4 separate regions of the Homo sapiens genome follow, and all the other regions are reported to be linked to region 2. The links are microRNA targets in miRTarBase. Many come from high-throughput screens and were not tested one by one. Region 2 holds a microRNA gene; each other region holds the end of a gene's coding sequence.
Evidence for each region. The annotated mature microRNA hsa-miR-6744-5p reads UGGAUGACAGUGGAGGCCU and lies in region 2 at 1,760-1,778, opposite strand. An mRNA with a match to its seed (bases 2 to 7 or 8) in the 3' UTR can be bound and repressed. Matches are read on the target gene's strand: a 7mer-m8 pairs with bases 2 to 8, a 7mer-A1 pairs with bases 2 to 7 and ends in A, and an 8mer does both.

Region 1 (5,066 bases), not on the chromosome of region 2:
CAGCATTAAACCCTTGAGACTACTCTCAGATGACTCTTTCTTTCCTAAACTGGTATTCTGTCAGCAGTTTGGGAGGAGCCAAAGTGAGCTCAGCAATAAAGAAACATTGCTTCTGTGTATTGTGAGCACTCTTTAGAGGGGCCTGTTTCCAGAAAGTACACTCCTTGGTTAGCCCACCATGGAGGTGGAACTAAAAGAGAACATAGTTTGAGGGACATTGGATAACAAGGGCTGTTTCCCTTGGTTCTGAGGTAATAGACCTCCACATGCTTGAATTGCAAGGATTAAAGGATCATGGTACTGGTAAATTTAAGAAACCTTAAAATGTCTCCCTTGGTACTCCAGCACTGGTTATTTACTCTTCACATTTCATGAACCAGGTAGAGATGAGGTGCAGCTGAGCACTGGGGAAACTAACTGAGTTCTTGTTTCTGTGTTACAGGCTTTCCTCGGAGACGGGTGGCATGGGGAGCAGCTAGAACAATGCAGATTCATCCATAATCCCTTTCTGCTGTTCACCACCACCCATGATCCATCTGTGTAGTTTCTGAACAGTCAGCGATTCCAGGTTTTAAATAGTTTGTAAATTTTCAGTTTCTACACACTTTATCATCCACTCGTGATTTTTTAATTAAAGCGTTTTAATTCCTTTCTCTGTTCAGCTGTTGATGCTGAGATCCATATTTAGTTTTATAAGCTTCTCCCTGGTTTTTTTTTTTTGGCTCATGAATTTTTCTGTTTGTCATGGAAATGTAAGAGTGGAATATTAATACATTTCAGTTTAGTTCTGTAATGTCAGGAATTTTTCAAAAAAATTAAAAGATGGACTGGAGCTTTTTCTTTGTGAATAGAAACTGGATGCCACAGTGATTCATGTGGGTTTTATTCCTCTTGTCTTGCTGTTATTTTTGTACCTTTTATCCCTCAAAGGACCCTTCTTGGGTTTTGAATGGAAGCCTTTATTCCGGTTAAGATGTTTTCTTCTATTTTACCACTTCCATCTTTTTTTGTGGCCCTCGATCCTATTTTTCCCTGACTCCATGCTTGGTTGGCCCTTATAAAACTTGTGCCCAAAAGATTGAGGATTAGACTTTCCGAGGACTTACCTGTCCTAGGGGAGTAGGCAAGCACTTCCACTAGGGAGGGGGTGGGGGAAAGGAATGACACATGACATACATGGCATACACATTAAGCAGTTGATCATATGTCTGACTGGGTTCCAGTTTCTTGGGAATGTTGGTCCCCTTGTTCAGGCTTGCATATTTTAAACTAAAAATTTCAGTCTATTGTTTTTAGTAACTTCATTTATAGTCCTCCATAACAAGTTAGAAGGATGTATCTGCTACCATTTATTCCTATAATTTTAGAAAGTTGGGGCTTGACATTATACTCATTTAGTGAGAGTAGATGCAAAAAAGTGGAGGGGCAGGAGAACTTCTCCAGACACCTCAGATAAAGTCCGGAGCCCAAGGCTTTATCTTAACCATGTATGGTACCCCATTCATTCATCAAGAAAACCCTCAACAGCTGGGCCTGCATGGAGTGTTATATTTCAAGGTTTTTCACAGGGGTTACAGTAGGACAGTCCCCACCCCAATCAGGCACCAGGATAAAAGCAGGGACTTAAACAGCACCCCGGTTCTTCAGCCTGAGCCATCACATGCTATCAGTCTCCTAACCTCCCCCTGGGCCTTAAGACAGGGCTTGGGCAGAGAAGATAAATGGTGGGACAAAAAAATGAGTTACATTGCCACCTGAGAAACCTCAGAGGGGAGGACCCAGCCTTAGCCTCCCTCCTCCCAAGTGCAAAATGTGTAAACAGAGTAAACGGAACAGAAAAGTGCAGTCTAAGTGGTTTTCTCTCCTGCCCCTCCCACCGCCCCTCCCCCCACCCCCTATTATTTGGGGATAAAGAATATAAAGACAACCCTGGCTTTTCTATTGCCTTGTTGCTTGCTGAATATAAGGAATGGGGTGGGGCAGGAAGGGGCTTGCCCTTAGCCACAGCTCTACGGCTGTGCCTCATTCATTTCCACAGCTGCCAGTGTCCCTAGAGTTTATCAGGTGAATTGGTCAGGGGATCAGTCTCCCTCGAGCCTGACTTACGGCTGGGACAGCCCCATCTTTCTGTTGATTATGTGGCGCATATATATATATATATGTATATATATATAATTTATATAAATATTTCTCTATGTACAAGGAATACGAGTGGCTTTCATGGAGGGAGGGAAGCTGGGGGCCGCAAGGCATCAACGCTGTTGGAGTTGTCCAATTCAGTGCTGTCACAGTCTGAGTCCTCAGAATTGGGAGGGCCCTGTGAGAAAGAGTAGAAATGGAGTGAGATTCCTTGGGGTTCTTTGCTGGGGTCATTTTAATAGCCAGTGGCTTACTGATTTGTTTTTTAAGACAGAGTCTCACTCTCGCCCAGGCTGGAGTGCAGTAGCACAATCTCGGCTCACTGCAACCTCTGCCTCCCAGGTTCAAGCAATTCTTCTGCCTCAGCCTTCTGAGTAGCTGGGACTACAGGCATGCACCACCACGCCCAGCTAATTTTTGTACTTTTAATAGAGATGGGGTTTTACCATATTGGTCAGGCTGGTCTTGAACTCCTGACCTTGTGATCCACCCGCCTCGGCCTCCCAAAGTTCTGGGATTCCAGGCGTGAGTCACCATGCCCAGCCAGCTTACTGGTTTTATTCCTTCCAGATTTCAGTTGCTCAGGCCATTCTCCAAGGTGTCAGACTCCTTTCAGAATCATTCCCTGGCTGCAATTTATAGCTACATGCAAGCTACTGGTCAGGCATCGTAATAGATGCTCTGTGCAAGAGGCTTCTGAAATTCCACCACGTGGATATTTGCTCTTTATGGTACTTTCTGGCCTGTGCAGCTGTCTCCCCAAAAGCTGTTAAAAGACAAGGCATCTGCTTACAGCTCTCCCTGTTCAATATCTGCTTTTTGCTGTTGTGCCACTCACCCGCTCTCTGAGAAGTTCCTGGTGTGGAATGGGCAGGGAGCTGGGTTCAGGGCCAGGGATGACCTCTGAAGGAGGTGGGTCCAGTGGGATTTCTGAGCCCTGGGAGCACATGTCATCAGACCGCTCATCTGGCCGCTCATCAGTGTTGGTGCTGCCAACTTCAGGTGTGCCACTGGGGGAAGGTTCACTAGCTGTGCCTTCCTCCCCATCTGATGGATTCTCTGAGCTGAAGGTAGATAGTGACTGGCGCATGTTCAGGCTCTGAGGCCACCTACATGTTGAAGAGGGGGATTACAGCTTGGTTCTGCCCCTAGCAGAAAACAAGAATGCCATTAATTCTTGTAATGCCATCACTTACCTCTGGCTTGATGTCAGCTCTACTTCACTGTCTACCTCTCCTTCCTCCTCTTCCGATGAGATGCCACGTTTCTGCAGGAGAGATGGGGTGGGGGGGGTCTGATTAGAAGTGGAAAGAGGTCACTAAGAATCCAGGAGAAGGGAACATAGTTACGAAGGGTGAAGTAGGGAATGGCTTAAAATTGAGCATAATGTGGGGGATTAGACTTGGACCCCAGGGAGGATAAGGAAAAAGGGAAAGAGCTTGGGAGCCTTCCCATACTTTACCTGACTTCGGGTGACGGCAGCCCTGTACAGCAGTGCAGCTGGGGTCAAGTGCTGGGACCCAGCCCGGCTTCCTCCCCGGCCTGAGGTCCCTTCCCTTCCAGTTCCCAGAAGCCCCACACCTTCACCAGGCCCTACTGGAGGAGGTGGTTCCCCTTTGGCTCCCCCAGGTGAATCTGGGCTGGTGGAGCCAGGGGCTGAGCCCTCACTTGGTGGGGTGTCACCCCGGGCCGGAGGTGGTGAGCCAGGATCCCCAGCTCCGCCTGTGGCCCCCCGGCCCCGGGACCCTAGTGCTGCTGACAGCAGGTCTGGGGACGATGAAGACATTTTGCGGAGCAGGAGGTCATGATGAAGCCCACGGAGGGCGGGAGGGCAGGCCTCCCAGGCTGAGGGTCCCCCTCCTAGGCCCCCTGGGCTTCCTGGTCCTCCAGGTTCATGGGGTGGCACAGCTGTACGAAGCCCAGGCAGGTCCCCACAGCTCCCCTTGGCGCTGGCCTTGCGGTGACGGGTCTTGCCACGGCGACTCCGTCCTGGTGAGGGGGGGCCCTTAGGACACCCAGGAAGCCCCACCCCACTCAGGGCTGCATCTAGTTTAGGGAGCAAAGACTCCGTCTTGAGGATATCTGGCCTGGAAGAAGAGGAAAAGTAAAAGGTTAAGACTGCCAAATCTATGTACTCAAAGCACTCCCTAACCTTGGACACTAAAGTACACATCTCCCTGCTAATATACCTGTTGCCACTTCAGTATCCCTCTTGCCATATTGGAACCACAGTACTCATGTCCCACCTTTTGCTATGGGGTGACAGCTTCTGTGGCACATTCCTCTTCTTGATAAGCTTCTCCATTGTGTTTCCATGCAGGAGGCCCCGGGAAGGGTGTGGCTTCAGCAGGCCTGGGCACCTCCGCTCTAAAGCTTGCTCTCGCCTAAAGATCCAGGCACCTTCTCAGCTGGGCAAATGACCAGGAAGGGGCACCCCAGTCTCAGTAGGACCTCTAAGGCAGGCACAGCTCCAGGGCTTGGTGCATAAGGACAGGTAGGGTTACCTGAGCAGCTCCCTCTCCTTGAGTTCCAGCTGCAACATGAGGGCATTAAGTTCCATATACAGGTTGTTGGCTCTCTCCAGCTTCCTTTCATAGTGCTCCCTGATGTCCAGGGCGTGTCTGCAACGGGCAGAAAGGTTCCCCAAGGTGAACTGGGTTCACCTAGGGCCATAACAGATCTCAGTCTCAGAATTCCTGTCCACAGTCCTTTCGTAGTCCTTCCACCCGCCCTGGGGCTGGGTAGGAGCTGACTGGGTGCATAGTCCTTGCTGTTAGTAAAATCACCTCCCCAAGCACGGGAACTCACCTGAGCTCCTCCCTCCTCCTCATCACCAGTTCCTCTTCTAGGCGGTGCAGACAGGTCCCTTCTGACTTAATCTTTTCAAAGTGCAGTTTTACTTCTTCCCGCCACTCTGCCTATGGGTT
Region 2 (5,070 bases):
ACCCACTGCTGTGCCCTTACCCCGTAGAAGGTGCCATTGTACGAACACAGCTGAGGTCCTGGAAGGAAAGGGAGCTAAGCCCTCGACAAGTGGTGGGGAGCATGTGCTCCAGCGCCCCCACCATCCTGCACTCCCCCACCCCCAGCAAGAGGCCACCCAGGAGCCCGGCCCCAGCCCCGCTCACTGCAGCGGAAGGTGGGACAGCAGTCGCCCTCCTCCTGGGTGCAGATGGACTCCTGCCCTGGCGGGCACACAGGCAGGCTCTGGGGGCAGGTGGTTGTGTTGCACACTGCGGGAGGATGGAGGCCACTGTCTGGGCGCTGCTCACTCCTCCTCCCGACCACTTGTTCCCAGAGTAAGTCGCAGGCGTGCTTTTCCCCGAGGACCTGACCGCTTCACAGCCCCTGGGGGCTCCCTCCAGGCCCCTTGCTTGGCCACCTCCCCGCTGCTTCCCACGTCCCTGGGCCACTCCTGGGCAGGCCAGAGGTCACCAGCCTCATCGTTAGGAGGAGAATGAAGCACCTGGAGGCCATCTCTGCCGAGTGGTCCTGCCGCGGTCACGCCAGGACACAGTGGCTCTCCTCTGCTCTCCTGTGCCCAACCCACAGGCCCCTGGTGGGCACCGGCTCTGTCCCCCCTCACCCTATGCCGGGCACCTCTGCTCTGCAGCGTCTTACCGCACACCGTCTCGGGGCAGCAGGGGTTCTCGGCCCGGGGCCTGGTCACGGTTACGAAGCCGGGACGGTTGCACGGCGGGGGCTGACCCTGGGCGTCACAGGGCAGGGGCTTGCACTGCACCGACACTGAACCCTCGTCACACACGCAGGACTGGCAGTTGCTGACCCACCGCTCCCCGGGCTGGAATGGATCAAGGGGGTCCCTGAGGGCTCCTGGACAGACACAGGTCAACCCTGGGCATCTGTCCAGCCACCCCCTCCCTCGGGCTGGTACCCGAGTGGCCCAGAGTGATGGGGCAGGAAGCGCACACCAGCCACTGGCACGTCCACGTCACACTCGGGCGCCCCACAGCTGCCCTGTGGGATGGGGATGCTCCTTCCCTCCCTCCCTCAGCTCGCGAGAGGGTGGGGTAGGGCAGGTGGGGGTGGAGCCACTCACAAATTTAGGAAACCCATCGGGTCCCACGCAGGCTGGAAAGAAAACAGCATGGCATCACGGAGGGTGCTGAGTTTGCAGGCGGAGGGGCCTCTGGCCATGGGAGGTGCTCTCAGGCCTGGAGCCTGCTTCCCCCCGGGATGGAAGGCCCTGGAGAACTTTTGGGGTGTCAGATGTGGCTGGAGCTCAGGCCAGGGCACCGTGAGCCCAGCTGTCAGTGCATGGAAGCCTCGTCCATGGTGGTGGGAGGCAGGGCTCAGGGGAGGGACCATCACAGGATCACTCAAGGACAGAGCCTCCCTGTGGGGCTTCAGGGGACCGTGGGGGCTCTGCAGGGTTCAGGGCCACTCTGGGGCCATCCCATGCTCTGGTGGGGCAGAACAGGTCACGGGGGTCAGCTGGGGAGAGGGGAGAGCACATCATGGTCCTGGGCGGCTCCTCCCACCCTGTGTGTGCTTGGGTCGGGCCCAGGGTCGTATCCCGCCACAGGTGGCGGAGCTTACGGCAGGCCTGCACGCAGATGCCCATGTGTGCGTTGAAGAGGATCTGGTCCTCAGGGCAGAAGCAGCCCTCCGCCATCCCCTCCAGCTGTGGGCTCTGGTTCCTGCAGGATGACAAGAGAGGCCCTGAGACCTAGAGATCCAGGAGGCCTCCACTGTCATCCACGTGAGTCCCCAGGATGGGCAGTGGGGAGCAGGGAAGGAGATGAATGGGTGGAGTGCGGGGCTCAGGGTGGGCGGGGCTGGGGGCGGGGACGGGTGGGGCTGGGGTGGGGGTGGGCGGGGCTAAGTATGGGCGGGGATGGGTGGGGCTCGGTGGCGGGGCCAGGTGGGGATGCGGGGCCAGGCGTGGCCAGGGATGCGCCCCCTGCCTGACTCTGTCTCTAAGGCATCTGGGAGCAGCAGGGGATGTTTTCCAAGGAGTCCTGGGCTCGGGCACCCCAGAGATCTGTGGCCCACAGTGGGACACCCTCTGGCCTCCTCCTGCTCCCCCAGACCGGTCAGGCAGGCCTGGGTGGCAGGGAAGGCACCAGCCATCCCTGTACTTACCTAGAGTTGCAGGTGGCAGGCTGTATGGGGCCGCATGGCTTGTACACTTTGGTGGGTGGGCAGGTGAGGTCTGTGGGCACAGAGAGGTGTCAGACAAGCCAAGGGGTTGGGGGGGCCCAGGGCCGCCCCCAATCACCGCACAGGACACTCAGAGAGGCCGAGGAGTCTGGGGGGCCCGGGGCCGCCCCCACTCACCGCACAGGACACTCAGAGAGGCCGAGGGGTCTGGGGGGCCCGGGGCCGCCCCCACTCACCGCACAGGACACTCAGAGAGGCCGAGGGGTCTGGGGGGCCCGGGGCCGCCCCCACTCACCGCACAGGACACTCAGAGAGGCCGAGGGGTCTGGGGGGCCCGGGGCCGCCCCCACTCACCGCACAGGACACTCAGAGAGGCCGAGGGGTCTGGGGGGCCCGGGGCCGCCCCCACTCACCGCACAGGACACTCAGAGAGGCCGAGGGGTCTGGGGGGCCCGGGGCCGCCCCCACTCACCGCACAGGACACTCAGAGAGGCCGAGGGGTCTGGGGGGCCCGGGGCCGCCCCCACTCACCGCACAGGACACTCAGAGAGGCCGAGGGGTCTGGGGGGCCCGGGGCCGCCCCCACTCACCGCACAGGACACTCAGAGAGGCCGAGGGGTCTGGGGGGCCCGGGGCCGCCCCCACTCACCGCACAGGCCACCGGTTGCACCTCGCCAGTCACTGCACACTCCCCGGGCGCGGCAGAGCTCTGCGTAAGCCTCCAGGCTCTGGCAGGGCACCTCAAGGCGGCCCCTGCAGTGGTCGCTGATGCAGGCGTTGAAGAATGGGCCCGGGGGCACAAGGTTGTGGCACTCAGCAAAGACCCTGTGGGGCAAAGCGATCAGGACGGAGGGCCCCCAGCCCCAGGGAGCTGCGTGCGTGCGTGCATGCGGGCGGGCGGGGGCGCCCCAGGGCCTGCAACCCCCGAGGGGAGGACTCACTGGCTCAGCATCAGATCACAGAGCGGCTGTGGTGGGCATGGGGTGGGGGTGGGTGTGCTAGACACCGGGGCTGCGGGGCTGGCAGTGGGGGGTGTGCCAGTCGGGGCCCAGCAGCCATCCTTTCTGCTGTCGGGGACCAGCCACGTCTTGGCCATGTCCTTGCAACTGGCGGCAGTGGTTCCGTCCCGCTGGAGACAGTCGTCCCTCTGGTTGTTGGTGCAGGTGCCTGGGAGTGGGGGCGTCACCGCGGGGCTGGAATCTGGGGAGCCTTTCACAGCCCCCACCCCCCTCCCCCACTCATTCCCCTCCCCAGGCTTCCCCTATGCTCACTGGGTTGTCAGGCCCAGCAGCAGCCCTGGCCGGGGCAGGACCCGCCGCCCACTCACCGCACTGGCCCTCGGTGTTGTTGTGGAAGAGGCTGTAGGGCAGCCGGGCCTGGAAGACTTGGCCATTGAAGGTGACGCTCACGCCCAGGGCAGGAATGTCCACACGCATGGTGGTGGTCCCCAGCACAGACACAAGCACGCCGTTCTTGCTGAAACCGCTGCTCACCGGAATTTGGTCAAACAGGATCTGGGGGAATCCAGGGGAACCCTGAGCTGGGAGGCAGTGCCAGGTGGGCTCGGGGAGCAGGGCTTCTCTTTGGGGCTCTGCCTCCATGTGCAGAGACCCCCCTGTGTATCCCCCACCCCAAAGCCCAGATCTTCCCTGGGGGCCTGGAGTCTCCAGCTGGCTGCATTTAGGCCACAGGGTGCGCTCGGCCTTAGGCGGCTCCACAGGCCTTCCCTGCCCCCTGGGAGCTGTCTTGGGCACTGGGCCATCGCTGCGGCACCTGGGTCACCCCGGCCTGCAGTCGGCCTGCCCAGGTGCGGTTGGGACTGGGCCAACACTGTGCCACCCGCAGCCTGGACTCACCAGGCCCTCCTCCTTCCCATGCACCATGGTGACAGTGAGGACGATATCCATGGACTTGTAGTGGATGCTGAGGGCGCGGGGGCAGCGGGCGGCAGCGGCAGTGGCAGAGGCCGTGCAGTAGTGGTTGTCCAGGTAGAGGCTGAGATTCCCAAAGCGTGCATGGATCTCTCTCATGAGGACATAGGTGCAGTTGCCCCGGAAGGTGTAAGAGGTGCCGTCAAAGGTGGAATAGTGGGAGCCGCCCCACATGCTGCAGATGCCTGCGGGACAGAGATGGACGGGCTGGCAGGCTCCGTGGTGGTGCCCTCGCTCCCCAGGCGTCATGGCAGCCAGCGTCACCACTGTGACTGCCGCCTTGGGGAGCCACTGAAGCCCCTGGGGCCTCAGCTGCCTCGTCTATAAAAATGGGTCCAGTGTGTAGAATGGGGTCCCCCAAAATCTATGGCTATCCCAGAACCTCCGCATGTGGCTTTGCCGGGAGAAAGTGTCTTTGCAGATGGGATTAAGGGAAGCATCTTGAAATGACATCATCGTGGACTAGCTGGGTGGGCCCTCAATCCAATGACCAGTGTCCTTACGGGAGACAGAAGAGACACAGACACAGAGAGGGGAGGCCACAGAGAGGCAGAGGCAGAGATCGGAGGGATGCAGCCACAGCCAAAGGACACCTGGAGTCCCCAAAGCTGGGAGAGGCAGGAAGGACCTCCCCAGACCCTCAGCAGGGAGTCTATCCCCTGCCCGCCTGGATCTCAGACTTCCAGCTCCAGGACGGAGAGTGGGTTTCTGTTGTATAAGCTCCCCAGCTTGTGGCGGTTTGGAACAGCAGCCCTGGGCCAAGGACATGGGGAGGAGTGAGAACGCCGTGACCTCTTAGCGGTGGGTCCCGCACGGTGATGGAAGCCGCTGTTAGGACCCAGGAGACAAAAGCTCCTCTGGGCTCCCGCTTCCATCCTGAGCTTCTCCTGGCCCCAGAAGCCCCTGGGCAGGGTCCCTTTCAAACCACACAGGCTGATGTGCAGAGAAGCTCAGCAAAC
Region 3 (5,066 bases), not on the chromosome of region 2:
GCCGAGATCATGCCACCACACTCCAGCCTGGTCCACAGAGCGAGACTCTGTGTCAAACAAACAAACAAACAAGCAACAGAGGAAGACATGTGCTGACCGGCAGCCCCCTTTGTCTCTCTCTTCCCAACAGGGGCCAACTCCAGCTTGACCGGCAGCGGGGGGCCGCTGTTATGGGAGACTCAGCTGGGCCTGGCCTTCCTGAGGGGCCTCAGCTACCACGATGGGGCCCTTGTGGTCACCAAAGCTGGCTACTACTACATCTACTCCAAGGTGCAGCTGGGCGGTGTGGGCTGCCCGCTGGGCCTGGCCAGCACCATCACCCACGGCCTCTACAAGCGCACACCCCGCTACCCCGAGGAGCTGGAGCTGTTGGTCAGCCAGCAGTCACCCTGCGGACGGGCCACCAGCAGCTCCCGGGTCTGGTGGGACAGCAGCTTCCTGGGTGGTGTGGTACACCTGGAGGCTGGGGAGAAGGTGGTCGTCCGTGTGCTGGATGAACGCCTGGTTCGACTGCGTGATGGTACCCGGTCTTACTTCGGGGCTTTCATGGTGTGAAGGAAGGAGCGTGGTGCATTGGACATGGGTCTGACACGTGGAGAACTCAGAGGGTGCCTCAGGGGAAAGAAAACTCACGAAGCAGAGGCTGGGCGTGGTGGCTCTCGCCTGTAATCCCAGCACTTTGGGAGGCCAAGGCAGGCGGATCACCTGAGGTCAGGAGTTCGAGACCAGCCTGGCTAACATGGCAAAACCCCATCTCTACTAAAAATACAAAAATTAGCCGGACGTGGTGGTGCCTGCCTGTAATCCAGCTACTCAGGAGGCTGAGGCAGGATAATTTTGCTTAAACCCGGGAGGCGGAGGTTGCAGTGAGCCGAGATCACACCACTGCACTCCAACCTGGGAAACGCAGTGAGACTGTGCCTCAAAAAAAAGAAAGGAAGAAAAAAGAAAACTCAGGAAACAGATCTTGGGGGACACTCCAGGGAACCCAAAACTCAAAGGCGGAGAGCTCAGTGGGCACCACCAAGGCGAGATGAAGCCCCAGCAGGCACCTTCAGAAGACCCACGTAGACTGCAGACCCTGCCACGGACAATACTAAGGACAAAAACCCAGAGACTTGGGGTCTGTGGGCCCCCAAACATGGGGTAAAGTTGATTTGCCTGATATTCAGGAAGAAGGGGTGAGGGGTGGGTATTTATGCTTTTGATTCAGAAGAAAGTGGGGCTTGGGATTCCAGGGACTTGGCTGGGGGTGGGAAACTTCATCCACTTCCCTACTCTCATCATGAGTACGGACAGGGTGGGCGGGAGACTGATCATCGGGACTCATCATGAAGAGCCCAGCCCCACCCCACATACTCAGATCCCACCCACAGACTGGTGGCCACACCTCAGCCTGGTCACAAAGAGTTACACTCAGATACATGAGCACGGCAGCGTGCTCATAACTGTTTAACAACCAGCTGTCCTGGGAGGGGGACAGCTTTGTAATGTTTGCCAATTTCCATGGTGTAAATGCTACCACCATGGCTGATTTCATCACTGCCAAGCATAGACATCCCTAATAGGACACCACGGATCTGTCCCCGGCATCCGGCCCAGGGCCTGGCACAAAGCATGCTCTAGGGAAATGCTTGCTGATTGAAAGGAAGGAAGAATGACTCTACAGTCACACCTATGGCATCCCACAAAATCTGTCACATGGCTGCATAATCTCAGCCACTCTTTCACAACTATAGACTCATACACGCGAAGTGCCAGATTCATGCACAACCACACAATCACATGGAAGTCACAGACGGCATCACAGACAGTCACAGCACTGTGTGTATGTTATAACACAAGCACACAAAACTCAGACAGCATCCCAGCTACACAGCCACTCCCAGAGGTGTCACCGTCACACTTGGTAATTAATACTCATTACATTAGACACAGACAGACCAAGTTATAGTCAGACCTGGTTACACACATACACACACACAATATCACCATGACAAATACACATTACACACACACAACATCACAATGACAAACACACATTACACACACAACATCACGATGACAAACACACATTACACACACAACATCACGATGACAAACACACATTACACACACATCACAATGACAAACACAACATTACACACACACAACATCACAATGACACACACATCACACACACATCACAATGACAAACACACAACATTACACACATATACACACAGCCTGAGGGCCCTCCCCAGCCCAGACTAACACATCTCGGGGTGAGGACCAGACCTTGTTCATAACCCTGGGCCTCTTAACCACTGATCTTTGAAATAAATGGCAAATAGTTGTACCTGGATCTGTCTAGTTCTTAGGGGAACAAACTGAAGAAGGGTGGAGAGGAATTGTCAGGCCTAAAGAGCCCCACAGGGAAAGGGAGGAGTCGGATGGGGGGCAACCATCAGCAACAAGTGGTGGCTCCTAGAGGCAGAGGGATGGAGGTAATGACCCATGGAGGTCATTCTACAGATGAGGAACCTGGACCCAGTTGGCTCAAGTCCATGCAGGAAATGTGGGGGAAACCAGAGACCTCACGTCTGGATCTGGCTTCCTCTCCAATCCACAATTCCTGAGGAAGTAGAGGCTACATCCCGCAAGACGCCCTTATTAGACACATCCAGGACAGAATGACAATCCGCCAAGCCAGCTGGAAGCATAAAACACAGGGAGCTGGTGGGTTGGGTGGGGGCAGATAATGATATGCATACAAATTAGAGGGTCTATGCAAATGAGCATTGCTGCAGTGTGGCTGGAGGGAATCCTTAGTTCCTAGGATTCTAGGATATGGGTTTCGACCCCAGAGGTGAATGTATTGTTATTATTGTTTTGTTGTTGTTGTGAATGACAAGTCAAAATTTGTGGGTTATTGTTGTTATCGCCAATAGTATTCTTGTCATTGTTGCACAGTACAGAGATGAAGGAAACAGATTTTGCAATCAGATGATCCTGGGTTCTGAGTCCACTCTGCCACTCACCAGCTATATGACCTCCAGCAATTTCCATCACCTCTCAATGCTTCAGTTTCCCCATCGGCAAGATGGTTGTGGGGGGAGAGGAACAACAGTACAGATTCACCATCCCAAATTCAAAATGCTCCAAAATCTAGGCCGGGCGTGGTGGCTCATACCTGTAATCCCAGCACTTTGGGAGGTCAAAGTGGACGGATAACCTGAGGTCAGGAGCTCCAGACCAGCCTGGCCAACATGGCGAAACCCCATCTCTACTAAAAATACAAAAAATTACCTGGGTGTGGTGGGGGGCACCTGTAACCCCAGCTACTCGGGAGGCTGAGGCAGGAACCCTGGAGGTTGAGGTTGCAGTGAGCTGAGATCACACCACTGCACTCCAGCCTGGGTGACAGAGCAAGGCTCCCATCTCAAAAAACAAAAAAACATGCTCCAAAATCTGAAACTCTTTGAGCCCCAGTGTGATGCCACAAGTGGGAAATTCCACAACTCATCACATGTGATAGATTGCAGTGGAAATGCAGGCACACACCACGAAGTTTACTCAGCATCCTCAAAGGAAATCCCCGTCAGTAGCTATATATCATTTTCTCACATGCCAGATAGGTATCTCTCATCTTTTACTGTTAGGTACTTCTGTGTTGAATAGGTGGAGGAAAATGATTGCTGGTTAGTAGTATATAAATTCAGAGTCAGGAAGGATGGTGATGTCGGCTGGGTGCAGTGGCTCATGCCTGTAATTCCAATGTGATACCCTACCTTGTGTTTAACGTGATTGACTCTCCCTTAGCTGAGAGGGCCAGGCAGACTCTATTTTGGCTTCTTCGCTTGCAGTCTCTCACCCACCCCCCTTCCTCAAGGACTTAAGCTGACTCCCAGCACATCCAAGAATGCGATTACTGATAAGATACTGTGACAAGCTATATCCACAATTCCCAGGAATTCGTCCGGTTGATAGCACCCAAAGCCCCCGCGTCTATCACCTTGTGATAGATTTAAAGCCCCTGCACCTGGAACTGTTTGTTTTTCTGTTACCATTTATCTTTTTCACTTTCTTGCCTGTTTTGCTTCTGTAAAATTGCTTCAGCTCGGCTCCCTCTTCCCCTTCTAAACCAAGGTATAAAAAGAAACCTAGCCCCTTCTTTGGGGTGGAGAGAATTTTGAGCGCTAGCCGTCTCTCAGTCGCCGGCTAATAAAGGACTCCTGAATTAGTCTAAGAGTGTGGCATTTCTCTATAACTCACTCAGTTACAACATTTGGAGGCCACAGCGAGATCCGCCACCGGGTGAAATCTGGACCCGTTCCGGGCTCCCCTGGACAGACGGCGAGCTTATAGGGGAGGCGCCACCTAAAGACGTTCCAGGGACGTGTAGGCCACCGTCTTCCAGAGGGGAACGGATCGGCTGCCGGTGTCCTCAACCAAATTCAACTCCTGAGTCCTCAGTGTCTGGTCCCGGGAAGGTAAGTCAGATTTGACTCTGTTTCTCTGGGAGGGAGGTGGCCCTGATGAGGGCGTCCCTCTGACTCTGTCCATATTCCAGGACGCTGGAGGACAGAGTCCTGGTTTCTGTCTGACTCTGTTTCTCTGGGAGGGAAGCGGCTCTGATGAGGGCATCCCTCTGACTCTGTCCAAATTCCAGGATGCTGGAGGACAGAGTCCTGGTTTCTGTCAGGCATCTCTGTAAGACTAGTCTCTTTCTTTCTCTCTCTCTCTATCTCTTCTCCTCTCGTTGAGGTCTCAAGGAGACCTCTGTTTTAAAACGGGTATTGAAGAATTGTAATAAACTCTGTGTGAGTGAGTGAGTGAATGTGGAGGTCAAGGGCTCGCGCTTGAATTTTCAGTTTGTAGCTCCACGGCAAAAGCTACAGAGTTCGAGTGGGCCCTCACCTGTGGTTCCGTGGTGACCTCATAAGGCTTAGGGCAGCATTGAGCATAGCTGGATCTGAACGGGCGTTTATACCGGCCTGCCAAAGCTAAGAGGAGCCTGAGTCCTCACAAGGGGAGTGGCCAGGCGGGCATCTGACTGATCCCATCACGGGACCCCCACCCCTTGT
Region 4 (5,066 bases), not on the chromosome of region 2:
GTGTGGTGCCAGCCATGCCCTTCCCCGCCTCACATGAGCACAGGGGTTTTTGCCCTGAGGTTTGGGTGAACACTCTGGGTGCCTCGGTTTCCCCCCTAGTCTGGCCCTCACCATCGGGCACTAAGCCGTGGTTTTCATATTGGTCCAGCTGGACGAGTGTGGGATTCCGGCAGCCGTGGGTTGCACGGAGACGGCAGGTAGTCTCTGCCTTCCAGGTTGGAGTCAGCAGTGCGAAGAAGCGTTCGTATTCGGTAGGAGAGAGAGGGCTGCCTGGAGTGGAGGCCTGAGTCGAATCCTGGGCTGCGGCAGGTGCCAGAGGCAGGAGCAGCACTGCGGAGCGGGCGAACGGATGATGGAAGGACCGAACCCCAAAACCCGCTCCGAGACCAGGACAGACAGACCCAGACTGGCAAATTAGGAACGGGGTGAGGGTTATCCCTGCTGACCAGGGCGGGGGGAGTCTAGAGACAGAGGCAAAGGTCCGGCCGCGGGCGGGGGGAGATGGGAGTATCCCAGGACCTAGGGAGCCGACCCAGCGCGACCACCATGAGGAAGCGATCCAGAAACCGTAAAAGCAGAGCTCTCGGGAGGGAGAGGACTAGCCCGGGGAGAGTCTGTTGGAGCAGGTGTAAACCTCTCACCCTTCAGGAGTGAGGGAAGGAAGCCAGCGGCTGGCTTCCTCATGGCCGGAGAAGATCCGCCCGCGTCCCGTGGACACAAGCCGCCTCTAACGGGCCAAGCCGCAGAGAGAGCCGCAGGCGCGGGGCGGGGCGCACGCGGGCACCGCCCACGCGTCACAAAGAGCGGGCCGGGGCGGGGCCTCGACAGCCGGGCTCTCAGGGCCCTAAAGTGGCCAGAGCCCATCCAGATGGTAGGAATGGCAAACAGCTACCTTCACTTAGCGTCTTTTTCTTTTTTTTTTGAGACGGAGTCCTACTCTGTCGCCCAGGCTGGAGTGCAGTGGTGCGATCTCGGCTCACTACAACCTCGGCGTCCCAGGTTCAAGTGATTCTCCTGCCTCAGCCTCCCGAGTAGCTGGGACTATAGGTGCACGCCACCACGCCCAGCTAATTTTTGTATTTTTAGTAGAGATGGTATTTCACCATGCTGGCCAGATGGTCTCGATCTCTTGACCTTGTGATCCGCCCACCTCGGCCTCCCAAAGTGCTGGGATTACAGGCGTGAGCCACCATGCCCGGCCTAATTTTTGTATTTTTAGTAGAGACTGGGTTTCACCATGTTGGCCAGGCTGGTCTTGAACTCCTGACTTCAAATGATCTGCCCACCTCGGCCTCCCAAAGTGCTGGGATTACAGGTGTGAGCCACCGTAGCCAGCCACTTAGCATCTTTACATGCACTACCTTACGTAATTGCCATAGGAATCCCATAAGGTAGATACACTATCATTCGTTTTACAGATGAGAAATCGGGGCTTAGGGAAGCAACTCGCCCAACAAACAGGTCGTGAGGTCTAGAGCTAAGCGCAGGCAGAGATAGAATGTGCAAAACCAAGTCAAGGCCTATCTGGGTAGGAACTAGACAGGGCGCCTCCATGAGCAAAATGGGTCCAAGGGGAAAACAAGAGGGTGGCTCAGTGGTCTACGAAAGTGGTTTCCAAGGGAGAATCGAGTAAGACAGTCCACTGAGGTATGGGAGGAGAACTTTTGCTTTTGTATCTGTTTTGTGTTTAAAATGAGAAATTCCAGCCTGGGCAACAGGGCGAAACCTCGTCTCTACAAAAAGTACAAAAAATTAGCCAAGCGTGGTGGCACGTGCCTGTAGTCCCAGTTTCTTGGGGGGCTGAGATGGGAGGATCGCTTGAGCCCATGAGGCCAAGGCTGCAGTGAGGTGCAATCGGGCCACTGCTCTCCAGCCTGGGTGACAAAGTGAGACCCTGTCCCCACCCAAAAGCAAAAGTAAAAAAGAAAAATAAAACAAGAAATTGTCTTGGGCCAGACTTGGTGGCTCACGCCTGTAATCCCAGCATTTGGGAAGTCAAGGCGGGTGGATTCCTTGAGCCCAGGAGTTCCAGACCAGCCTGGGCAACATGGCGAAACCCTGTCTCTACAAAAAATACAAAAATTGTCAGGTGTGGTGGTGTGCGCCTGTTGTCCCACTTACTACTTGGGGAGGCTGAGGTAGGAGGATCACCTGAGTCTTCAGAGGTCAAGGCTGCAGTGAGCTGAGATCTCACCACTGTGCTCCAGCCTGGGTGACAAAGTGAGACCCTGTCTCAAAAATAAAATAAAATAAAATAAATTAATAAAATAGAGACCAGGCACTGTGGCTCATTCCTGGAATTCCAGCACTTTGGGAGGCCAAGGAGGGTGGATCTCTTGAGGCCAGGAGTTTGAGACCAGCCTGGCCAAAATGGTGAAACTTGGCCGGTGCGATGGCTCATGCCTGTAATCCTAGCACTTTGGGAGACCAAGGCAGGCAGATCACGAGGTCAGGAGATCAAGACCATCCTAGCTAACACGGTGAAACCCTGTCTCTACTAAAAATACAAAAAATTAGCCAGGCGTGGTGGCATGTGCCTGTAGTCCCAGCTACTCGGGAGGCTGAGGCAGGAGAATTGCTTGAACTCGGGAGATGGAGGTTGCAGTGAGCCGAAATCACGCCACTGCACTCCAGCCTGCATGACAGAGTGAGACTCCATCTCAAAAAAAAAAAAAGGGTGAAACCCAGTCTCTACTAAAAATACAAAAATTATGGCTGGTCTCAGCACAGTGCAATCTCTGCCTCCTGGGTTCAAGTGATTCTCCTGCCTCAACCTCCCAAGTAGCTAGGATTATAGGCACATGCCACCACATCTGGCTAATTTTTGTATTTTTAGTAGAGATGGGGTTTTAACATGTTGGCCAGACTGGCCTCGAACTCCGGACCTCAGGTGATCCACCCACCTCAACCTCCCAGAGTGCTGGGATTACAGGTGTGAGCCACCGCACCCAGCCTATTTATTTTTTTGAGACGGAGTCTCACTCTATCGCCCAGGCTGGAGTGCAGTGGTACAATCTCAGCTCACTGCAACCTCTGCCTCCCAGGTTCAAGCGATTCTCCTGCCTCACCCTCTCGAGTAGCTGGGATTACAGGCACCCATGACCACGCCCAGCTAATTTTTGTATTTTTGGCCGAGACCGGGTTTCGCCATGTTGGCCAGGCTAGTCTTGAACTCCTGACCTCAGGTGATCCACCTCCCTTGGCCTCCCAAAGTGTTGGGATTACAGGCGTGAGCTACCGGGCCTGGCCTACTTTAAAAAAAATTTTAAAAAATGAAAAAAAGAAATCAGCTTGGGTGCTGTGGCTCACGCCTGTAATCCCAGCACTTTGGGAGGCCAAGGCAGGCAGATCATGAGGTCAAGAGATGGAGACCATCCTGGCCAACACGGTGAAACCCTGTCTCTACTAAAAATACAAAATTAGCTGGGCGTGGTAGCATGTGCCTGTAGTCCCAGCTACTTGTAAGACTGAGGCAGGAGAATCACTTGAACCCGGAGGCGGAGACTGCAGTGAGCCAAGATCACGCCACTGCACTCCAGCCTGGCAACAGAGTGAGACTTCGCCTCAAAGGAAAAAAAAAAAGAAGTCAAGCTAATGTATAGTATAGCAGTACGTATGTATAGCACAAATACATCATTTATTGGAAATTAAGTGAAAGATGTTTTATGGAGAAAAGATGCATGATTTACAAAGTTTTGGAGACCCCCTGGTCTGAGGCCTACCCTCCAGCACCTCTGTCTTTCCCAAGTTGAGAACTTACAAGTTCTCGGACAGAGGCACCACTCTGGTTTCATGTCGTGTCCTAATTCTGGCATGCCATCCTCTCACATTGCATCCAACCCAGAGGACGCAAAATGAATGCTCAGCATGTTTACTAAAACAGTGTCTCTACAATAAACACAGCAGGCCAACATGTATAGCTTTTATTTACCTACCCAAGTTCCTTTTACATGTGAGTTATCTGCATTCCACCTTGCCCCCTCTCCCAGGATGAATCCTCTTGGCACAGAGGAAGGGGTGCCCCTTCAACTAGGGCCAGAGCCTAGATGACCTGGTGGATCCCCCACCATGAAAAAAGCAGGAAGGGAATGGAGAAGAAAAGTGTTGATCACACCTAGCCCTCACCACAGGAGGGGGAATGAAGAGGTCTGGGGGACTGCCCCCATGCTATGCCCCAGTCCTTAAATACAAAGCAAGGAGAATGAAAAGGACCCTCCCTCTGAAATACAGCACCGACCTCAGCATGGAGGCAAAAGGACAGTGGGCAAGACCACGTCCCTCCGAAGGGAGAGGGCTGAAGGAGAGCACATACCGTTAGTGGCTGCGGCACCCCTCCCTACCAGGGTCTGATGCAGCCTCAGCACCGGGAGTGGGGAGAGGGGAGGAGAAGGGATGACAGCACTGTGCCATCCACTCCTCCCTGAACCCCTGGCCCCAGCACAGGCATTCCTCTGCCCACTAGCCCAAGTCAGGGGATGTGGAAGAAACTGTGTTGGAATCCAAGGCCCTTATCTATTTCTTCTTCCGTTCTTGGGAGCAGCGTGGGCAAAACCTGAAACAGAGAAGGGGAGAGAAAAGTGAGTGAAAGGGAGAATGCCCTTGACCACTCAACTTAGGGACCCTCCAACTCCTGCCACTTACCATTTCCCCCGAGGCTTGGTTGTCAGCCCCACACAGGCAAAATGGAACCACTCAATGGAACACTGGAAGAGGAAGAAAGAAGTAGTCAGGGGCCAGGAAGGGCCAGAGGAAGGAGAGAAAGCCCCTCCAGATTCCTTAGGAACATCCTGTCCTTTACTCCATCCTTTTGGAGAATTCTTGGAAGTCCCAAGGCCAACCAGTTCCCACCATCTTCCTTCTATTCTTTTTTTCTTTTTGAGGCAGAGTCTCACTCTGTTGCCCAGGCTGGAATGCAATGACATGATCTCAGCTCACTGCAACCCCCGCCTCCCGAGTTCAAGCTATTCTCCTGCCTCAGCCTCCCAAGCAGCTGAGATTACAGGCACAGGCTATCATGCCTGGCTAATTTTTGTATTTTTAGTGGAGACGGGGTTTCACCGTGTTGG

Region 1: miRTarBase lists PCBP2 as a target of hsa-miR-6744-5p. Seed matches in the 3' UTR shown: 7mer-A1 at 492-498 and 7mer-A1 at 610-616.
Region 3: the mRNA of TNFSF14 is a reported target of hsa-miR-6744-5p. Seed matches in the 3' UTR shown: 7mer-A1 at 1,263-1,269.
Region 4: miRTarBase lists ING4 as a target of hsa-miR-6744-5p. Seed matches in the 3' UTR shown: 7mer-m8 at 4,391-4,397.

The regions. Positions count from the first base shown.
Region 1 is chr12:53,478,964-53,484,029 of GRCh38, forward strand. It overlaps PCBP2 (poly(rC) binding protein 2), which reads left to right. Exons shown (of 15, transcript NM_031989.5): 15 at 443-2,199. The coding sequence ends at 479. It overlaps MAP3K12 (mitogen-activated protein kinase kinase kinase 12), which reads right to left. Exons shown (of 14, transcript NM_001193511.2): 8 at 4,948-5,057; 9 at 4,644-4,760; 10 at 4,386-4,523; 11 at 3,602-4,226; 12 at 3,336-3,406; 13 at 2,978-3,248; 14 at 706-2,317. The coding sequence ends at 2,219. Among named protein-coding and RNA genes, the nearest start is that of PCBP2-OT1, 17 kb to the left of the region's middle. RefSeq lists an enhancer at 3,392-3,905.
Region 2 is chr11:1,253,318-1,258,387 of GRCh38, reverse strand. MIR6744 (microRNA 6744) reads right to left here and starts at 1,783; the gene lies at 1,718-1,783. It overlaps MUC5B (mucin 5B, oligomeric mucus/gel-forming), which reads right to left. Exons shown (of 49, transcript NM_002458.3): 34 at 4,037-4,296; 35 at 3,508-3,694; 36 at 3,122-3,347; 37 at 2,830-3,005; 38 at 2,163-2,232; 39 at 1,617-1,717; 40 at 1,117-1,148; 41 at 678-858; 42 at 185-289; 43 at 21-58.
Region 3 is chr19:6,660,415-6,665,480 of GRCh38, reverse strand. It overlaps TNFSF14 (TNF superfamily member 14), which reads left to right. Exons shown (of 4, transcript NM_001376887.1): 4 at 131-4,228. The coding sequence ends at 555. Among named protein-coding and RNA genes, the nearest start is that of TNFSF14, 7.2 kb to the left of the region's middle.
Region 4 is chr12:6,646,683-6,651,748 of GRCh38, forward strand. It overlaps ING4 (inhibitor of growth family member 4), which reads right to left. Exons shown (of 8, transcript NM_016162.4): 7 at 4,642-4,703; 8 at 3,619-4,552. The coding sequence ends at 4,513. ACRBP (acrosin binding protein) reads right to left here and starts at 750. Exons shown (of 10, transcript NM_032489.3): 1 at 642-750; 2 at 112-330. The coding sequence starts at 684. RefSeq lists enhancers at 171-684, 608-677.